2 linked regions of the Homo sapiens genome follow. The protein of the gene in region 1 interacts with the protein of each later gene in a biochemical or structural test. Each region holds a gene or a part of one and is shown on either strand. Other genes may lie near its edges. The genes, in order: KRT6B and UBE3A.

Region 1 (4,403 bases):
TAATAGTGCAGAGTGCATGTCCTGTGAGAGGACCCCAGCTTCCTGTCAGGGGATGTCCCCAGTGAAGTCTGCAGTCCTCTGGTATTCAGGGATGGACACAAGGATTCCTCAGCGGCTGTCCACTCCGTGCTCACCTTTGTCTGGTACCAGGACTCAGCCTCAGCCCTGCTCCTCTGAGCAATCTCCTCATATTGGGCCTTGACCTCAGCGATGATGCTGTCCAGGTCCAGGTTGCGGTTGTTGTCCATGGATAGCACCACGGATGTGTCTGAGATGTGGGTCTGCATCTGGGACAGCTCCTGCAGAACAGAAGGTCATAAGATCAACTTCACTTCTGACATTTACAGAGATGCCCAGCCCTGTACATCTTCTCCCCTTTGCAGACCCCATCAGAGTAAACAGAAGGATGGTGGAGTTGCTTACTGCATCATACAAGGCTCTCAGGAAGTTGATCTCATCTGTAAGAGTGTCTGCCTTGGCTTGCAGTTCAACCTTGTTCATGTAGGCAGCATCCACATCCTGGGGAAAGAGCCAACAACCTGGAGTTGCCTGAGCTCACCTTTCCAATCTACCCATCTTCTAGTCCTCCTGCCAATTCTCCTCTCCCAGGGGAGCGAGGACACAGAGCCACTTCTCTCCTTCTAAATGAATTTGAACCCCTGGCTTCATCTGCTCACCTTCTTCAGAGTCACAAATTCATTCTCTGCTGCTGTGCGCTTGTTGATTTCATCCTCATATCTACAGGAAGAAAGGCATGGGACACATTTGAGCCAGTGGGTAGGATGAAACAGAAAAGCAGCTTGGGATTCAACATTTTCCTGAATGGAATATATTCTAATTGAGCTTTCCTGCCACAGAGAGCCAAAGAGATGAATTTTGCTACTACTAAATTTGCCATTTCTTTAATCTCCCCATCCTCCCATAACCATCTGTGGTTCTTGCAGGTTTGCTCCTAGGGACTAATTTGTGCTTTTCATTTCCATGGACATGGGTTGTTAGGAATCCTACACACATCTGGCCCTGGTCACCCAATAGTCTTGAAGTGTGTGCTGCAGGAAATGGAGTCCTCACTTGTTCTTGAGGTCCTCCACCAGGTCCTGCATGTTTCTCAGCTCCGAGTCCAGACGACCCCGTTCCCCCACGATGTTGTCCAGCTGCCTCCTGAGGTTGTTGATGTACTGCTCGAACAACGGCTCCAGGTTCTGCCTCACAGTCTTGGTGCCCTGCTCCTGCAGCAGGGTCCACTTGGTGTCCAGAACCTTGTTCTGCTGCTCTAGGAACCGCACCTGGAGGGGAAGCAAAATGGTCATTTTCCAGGAAAAGGAAGGCAGAGAAAGTGTCTGGTATCCAGTTTCCTGGAGGTCTGGGAGGTCCCCATGGTGCTGGGCTACTACAGTGCATGTAGAGAGGCTCAGGCTGAGCTCTGCTCCCCCAACTCCTTCTCCTTTGCACCCCACCAGTCTCACTAGAGAAATTGTCCCACGGACCACTGAGGTGTTCTCGCACTGTAAGCTATTGATCATCAGTGAGTTTCAACATTTCTTCTTTTCTTTTTCCAAGCACAATCACAAATCTAGTTTAAAAATACTAATTACCTGATATATTGTACACAGTTTTTTTTACCGAGAGGATCTTAGTTAGGAGGGATATTAGATGTTGACTCATGATTACATTTCAGTCTACTTTCCCATTTAGTGTCTCCTCTCAAATATTCTGATGTTATGGTCATTCTCTGTTTTTAAAATTAATTAGCATTTATCCATGTTTTACAGTTGTTTCTATGTCCCTTTTTTTCTTAATCCAGCCAGATTATCTTTTCCTTTTCTTTCTAAATCTTTTTCCTCTTACCCAGACCCCAGAGTGTAATTTACCAGCCCATATACTCCTGGCATTTGCTTTGTAATCTCTTAAACACTTCAGAGGGGAGAATTAACCTACTCCACTCTCTGATGGCCTCATCTGTGCTTCAGGGTTATGAAAAGTTATGGCTCTCCCTAGGCAGGAGTGAGGGCCACTCCAGATATCCCATGGGGGAGTGATGCCCATCTGTGCTGCCTCCTGTGCACCGAGAGCCACCTGCACTCTCTGCAGAGCTGGGCTGAGTCCCCTTCTCCCTCCCTCCTAGGGTCTCTCCGGCAGGAAGGTGTTGCTCTTCTGGTCTGGGGACCCTGAAGTGCCCGATGGAGGGCATGGCACTGGCTCACCTTGTCGATGAAGGAGGCAAACTTGTTGTTGAGGGTCTTGATCTGCTCACGCTCCTCGGCCCGCACCCGCTGGATGGCGGGGTCAATTTGCAGGTTGAGGGGAGTCAGGAGACTCTGGTTGACAGTGACCTCTTGGATGCCTCCAGGGGGGCACACAGGGAAGCCAGGGCCCCCAAAGCCACCAGCAAGGCCGGCTCCACCACCCAGACCAAAGCCAATGCCGGCTCCACCACCGAAACCAAATCCACTCCCGGCGCCACCAAAGCCATAGCTGCCTCCGGCTCTGCTGCCATAGCCGCCACTGATGGCACAGCTGCCCCCTCCAATGGAGATCCTCTTGGAGCCCCCCAGGCCATACAGACTGCGGCTGCCAAAGCCAGCTCCTCCACATGCGCCACCCAGGCCACCACTGCCCCTGGAGCGGGACACGGAGATGCTGCTGAAGCCAGAGCGGCTGACCCCAGGGAGCCTGGCTGAGTTGGCACTGAAACCCCGGCGGCTGCTGCTGTGGCTCCTGATGGTGGTGGATGTGCTGGCCATGGTTCCAGGAGATGAGAGGGCTTAGGAGAGTGTGAGAGGCTGGAGGCGAGAGGGAGGAGAAGCAGGACGAGGAATCGGACTCCAGTAGCAGCTTATATATGGAGAGCATGGGCTGGGCCCAGTCCTGGAAGGTGAGCTTGCAGGTTGGGAAGGGCTGGGCTTTACAAATAGTGAGATCACACCTGCATTATTACAAAAGTTATGAAATACCGAGATTGCATTTTTCGCTTCCTTTAGTCAGGCAAAATGTTCCTGCCTCCAGCTTTGACTTGAGATCTCAGCACAATAAGAGTATTCTCAATTCATGAAGTTGGAATTAGTCACTGTCTTCAGCAAAGGTTCTGCATGCTAGGCTGTTTATCGACATGCCCTGAGTGCCCTCCTCTTCCCAGTCTGACTTTCTTCCAGCCTTGCTGTTGGAGATCACAGGCACTGTATTGTGAATTCCTTAACAGAAATATTACAATTTCCCCATAATTGTTTCACCTTTTAGGTGCAATTTTAAACAGGTAGAGAAGCAGAACACTGCAATGGGCCTGTATATACCTGTCACCTGCTTCCATGATGATCATCTCATGGCCAGCCTGATTTCTTTCATACTTCAACCCTATTTCCTCTTCCATTCTAGATTGTTTGAAAGGAAATTCCAGAAGTCATATTATGTCTTCAATCAATAATTCAATATTAATATCTAAATAATAGGTCCTTTAAAAAATCAAAACACTATTTTTATATCTTAAAAATTTACATACTAATTAAAATGAACAAGTGTCTATTTAGTCTTCAAGCAGTCCTATTTTTGATATATATTTCTTATATTTTGGTGTCCCAATCAGAGTCAAAATAAGCTCTATAAACGTTGTATTTGAGTGATATATCCTTTAAATCATTGAAATTTAAAAATCTCCCTTCATTTCTTACTTTTATTTGTTAAATAAAACAGGTTAACTGTTCATTGTACTTTTTCATTCTTGGGATTTTTCTAATTGCATACCCCTATTGTTTCCTTTAATATGAGACTCTAACCTTCATATTTCATATTAAAATTAGAAGCTTATTAAGATTCTGTCTATATTTAAACATTCTAGAAGTAAATGTAGTAGATTGCCCATTTAAATTTTGAATAGTACTATTTGCACAATTATTTACATGTTTACAAATTGAATACATGATACATGTTTTAAAAAATTTTTTGTAAAACATGCTAAACAACAAAATAATATAGCTCAAGGCCATTCCCCAGTTACCCAATTCCTATCTATGGAGGAAGTAATGTTAGCAGTTCCTTGTGTATCCTTGTATCTTTACTTGGATATTTTCCTGTGCTTTTCCTGGGCCATGGGTGACATGTCTGTGCATATGTGTTTGTGTCAACGTGTGTTTGTATGGGTGAGGAAGAGGTGGAGGGAGTTGGCATATATAGAGAGGGAGCCTGCATTGTAGAAAGGTATATAAATAAATACATGAATGTTTTGTGTGTATGTGTTTGAGTGTGTTTTATGTATATAAAATATTTCATGTATTCATATGTACAAAACATAAAAATATTGTCTTTTTCAATTGTGATTGTGTTGTGTCTGCTTTGTCTCCCACATCTATGTTTTCTGATTCTCTTTTTAACAGTCTCTAGTCTCTTTTTCATAGCTGTTTGCTTTTCCC
Region 2 (3,823 bases), on another chromosome or scaffold:
TGGCTCACGCCTGTAATCCCAGCACTTTGGGAGGCCGAGGCGGGCGGATCACCAGAGGTCAGGAGTTTGAGACCAGCCTGGCCAACATGGCAAAACCCTTATCTCTACTAAAAATACAAACATTAGCCAGGTGTAGTGGTGTGCACCTGTAACCCCAGCTACTCAGGAGGCTGAGGCAGGAGAATCACTTGAACCCAGGAAGCGGAGGTTGCAGTGAACTGAGACTGCGCCACTGCACTCCAGCCTCAGTGACAGAGCAAGACTGTTTAAACAAACAAACAAAAAATTAACAAAATCTTATTTCTAGTGGTTTACATATTAATGATGCTGGCAACTTTTAGTTGAAATGTATTAAACAGCCTCGCAGTTTTTATTTTTATGAATTCTGCATACAATAAATAAATACCAACCAAAATATCTATACAGGCATACCCCAGAGATACTGCCGGTTCAGTTTCAGACCATGGCAAATAAAGTGATTATGGCAGTAAAGTGAGTCACACAAATTTTTTTGTTTCCCAGTGCTTATAAAAGTTACGTTTACATTATACTGTAGTCAAGTGTGTAACAGCATTGTCTAAAAATAAGTACATTATCTTAATTTAAAATCATTGCTAAAAATGCTAATGAAGTGAGCACATTTTGTTGGAAAAATGGTGCTGGTAGACCTGCTTGATGCAGGGTTGCCACCAAAAAAACTCAGTATCTGCAAAGTGCAATAAAGTGAGATACGCCTGTAATGTCTTTTTTCTCTTCTGTTATTACAAGCACTACTTTAAGTCTTCAACTACCGAATACTTGTAGACTATTTAATGAATTAATATTTTCATCATATTTATATTGAGAAAATTAAGAAGCTGAATTTAGTTAGAAAAGGTTTAGAATATCATCAACTCTTGAGGATGAGTTGGAAGCTACTTTATCTGTCATTTTTCACATAACACTAGTTTGCCCTTCAAATCATACATTTAAAAATGATCTTAAGATACATACCAAGTAGGGATTATGTTGTTATAAAAAGCTAGAAGTAAAATTAAGACTTTAATTTCAAAGATAATTTCTCTATAAAGAATAGCACAAGATATGTTCAACTATTCTCAGAGATGCATCAAGATATGACTTTTTTTCCTACTAGAAATTATATCTATGATCAATCATATTACAGAGATATTGCTGTTATACTCCTTGTGACTGATGAGGGGGGTTTTTCCTATCACCATGTTATCCCAACCCTTTAATGAATCACCTTTGAAACTCAGAACAGGTAGCAGCACAGAGGTTGCTAAGAGTAAATACATTCACCACTGCTGCCAGAAATGACCAACGGTGCACCAGAAAGAAGAAATACTGGTGAATTCCCACATACCACGACGAACAACCTTATAAAATAACAGAACAAATGAATATAAAGTAACATACAGCCATCCCTTGGTATATGTGACAGGGATTGGTTCCAGGACCACGTGTGTATACCAAAATCCATGCACGCTCAAGTTCTGCAGTTGGCCCTGTGAAACTGGCATGTATGAAAGTCAGCCCTCTGTATATGCAGGTTCTGAGTCCCACCAATACTGAATCTGCTCTTAGTTGAGAAAAAAAATCTGCATGTCAGAGGGCCCATGAAGTTCACAGCTGTGTTGTTCAAGGGTCAACTGTAATATAAAAATAACATTTATTGCTAGATAGAGTTGATATTCATTCTAGTGTTTATATACTTGAGTCTTAGAGCAATAGCCTTTGGAGACAACTTCCAGGAAGGTACGTGTTTGCATGCCTTCTCACTGCAATCCATCAGTAGCTGCCACTTGAACCAGTCTTAGCAGGGGATGGGGAAGCCTATGTCTTTCAGAATTGGATGATGTAGTACACAGAAGTAGACAGTAGAGTAGTAAGGGCATTTGCTTAAAAGCAGATAGAACTGGGAACCTCTACATCTTTCTGTGAGAATTCAGGGCTTAGTTTTTTAGGGTGTAAAATGGAAATACTAGTATGTATCTGGACATATTATCTTAAGAATTAAATAAAAGACTACCATTTCACTCAAAAAGTGCTTGATCCTGGGAAGCCATGTAACAGTTCACAAATGCAGAGTTCAAAAGAAAGGAAAAATTGCAGACATGGTAGCCTTATTTTAATTATCTTCTAACCAGCAGTAAGCATACTCTAACCAGTGAGGAATACTAGATAATCCATACGCCAAATGCAGGAGATTACATGAGACTTATATATAACAACACTTCATTCATGAAATAAATCACAAGATTAGCTCTGAAAAATGGTGATTATATTACAAATACAAATCTAAGTATATAGATGACAATTTGTGAGTTTGCTTATTTGGGAATTAGTACCTAGAGATAAAGGTCTGAAGCAAAATCACACACCCCTTTGGTGAATCAAATCTTCCTCTGAAGAACTAAGTACCTCACCTAATCAGAACAGAGTCCCTGGTATAGCCACCGTCATATTCTGTAGTTTCTTCTAGTGCTTGGAAATCTAGATTCTGCAAATTCAAGAAAATATGTCTTAGTTATCTGCTATACTACTGTATCATTACAAACAATAAATCGATACATGACTTTTTGCAGACACCTGCTTTCTTACCCGGCTTCCACATATAAGCAATTCAATTTCTTCTGGTCTGAATAAGTACTTTAAGGGAGATTCATTGGTCACCATATGAAAACCTCTCCGAAAAGCCTTGAACTGTTTTTCTACTGATTTATTGAGAATGTAGTCAGAATAAAGATTGACAAATTCCTGTAGAAAACATTAATCACAAGAACTTCTTATAATATGCTATGCAAACAAAACACAAGTTATTGGGCTGCATAGCTTTTTAATTTTTCCAAGAAAAAAACATTCAAGAATATTCTTAAAAATTCAATTTTACACCTACTTCTTAACAATTTCACAATTCTCTGTTATAGCCAATATTAAGCTATGAAAAGGCCATATACATAAAACTGTCAAGAATATTCTTAAAAATTCAATTTTACACCTACAAAGAAAACTACTTCTTACAATTTCACAATTCTCTGTTACAGCCAATATTAAGCTATGAAAAGGCCATATACACAAAACTGTCATACTTATAAATGTCAATTTCGATAATGTATTAAACAGAACTGAATATAAATGCTGGAGACGCAGAAAATTCTTTAGGTTCTCTCAACTAGGTATGTAAACAGACACATTTAAACCATGTATCCATCTATTTATAAATGCCAACCGTTTTAAGAGAGTACAATATATTTGATTTAAGCAAACCAGGAAGTCCCAAGTTTTCTACCATAGAATATTTGGTAAGCTGCCTACTGTATCCAGTTCAGCAAAAATGTGGAAGTACTGACTGACACATAAACTACTGTATCAAATCATAAAAGGAAAATGTGCTTTGTACCCTTAGTGTGTATAATATTTAATCAAAAAATTATATCAATATAAACATGTTTCTTAAAGGTATACTATATATTTGTCATAATTTTTTGCTTGTTATGTTCTGGGTTATTCCCATTCCCGATGAACACATTTTAGTCAATAGAAACCCAAATCTGACGTAAAGTATACTTTTCAGAAATGTATTTTTATCACAAACAGGATATACATGTGTAAATTAAATGTAATTTTTATTTGTTCTGTGATAAAGACCTTAATCATGAGGTTCCTGCTTACAGCTTAATACAAGAAACACCCTGCTTCTTGCTTTATACTACAACCACACTTAGCTATTAACTATCTCCTGCTTCATGTCCTCTTTCTCTAAAAGGGGCTTTAGTGCCCAACTGTGTGCTTTCATACCAACTTATATCCAAGATTTAGA

Evidence for each region.
Region 2: the proteins of KRT6B (region 1) and UBE3A form a complex in vitro, tested with the Homo sapiens proteins (one large-scale study listed by BioGRID).

The regions. Positions count from the first base shown.
Region 1 is NC_000012.12:52,449,335-52,453,737, forward strand, and holds the start of KRT6B (keratin, type II cytoskeletal 6B), read right to left. Parts: upstream 2,813-4,403; 5' UTR 2,745-2,812; coding exon 2,205-2,744; intron 1,287-2,204; coding exon 1,072-1,286; intron 739-1,071; coding exon 678-738; intron 520-677; coding exon 424-519; intron 300-423; coding exon 135-299; intron 1-134.
Region 2 is NC_000015.10:25,351,924-25,355,746, forward strand, and holds part of UBE3A (ubiquitin-protein ligase E3A), read right to left. Parts: intron 2,761-3,823; coding exon 2,605-2,760; intron 2,504-2,604; coding exon 2,430-2,503; intron 1-2,429. UniProt on the Homo sapiens protein: E3 ubiquitin-protein ligase which accepts ubiquitin from an E2 ubiquitin-conjugating enzyme in the form of a thioester and transfers it to its substrates.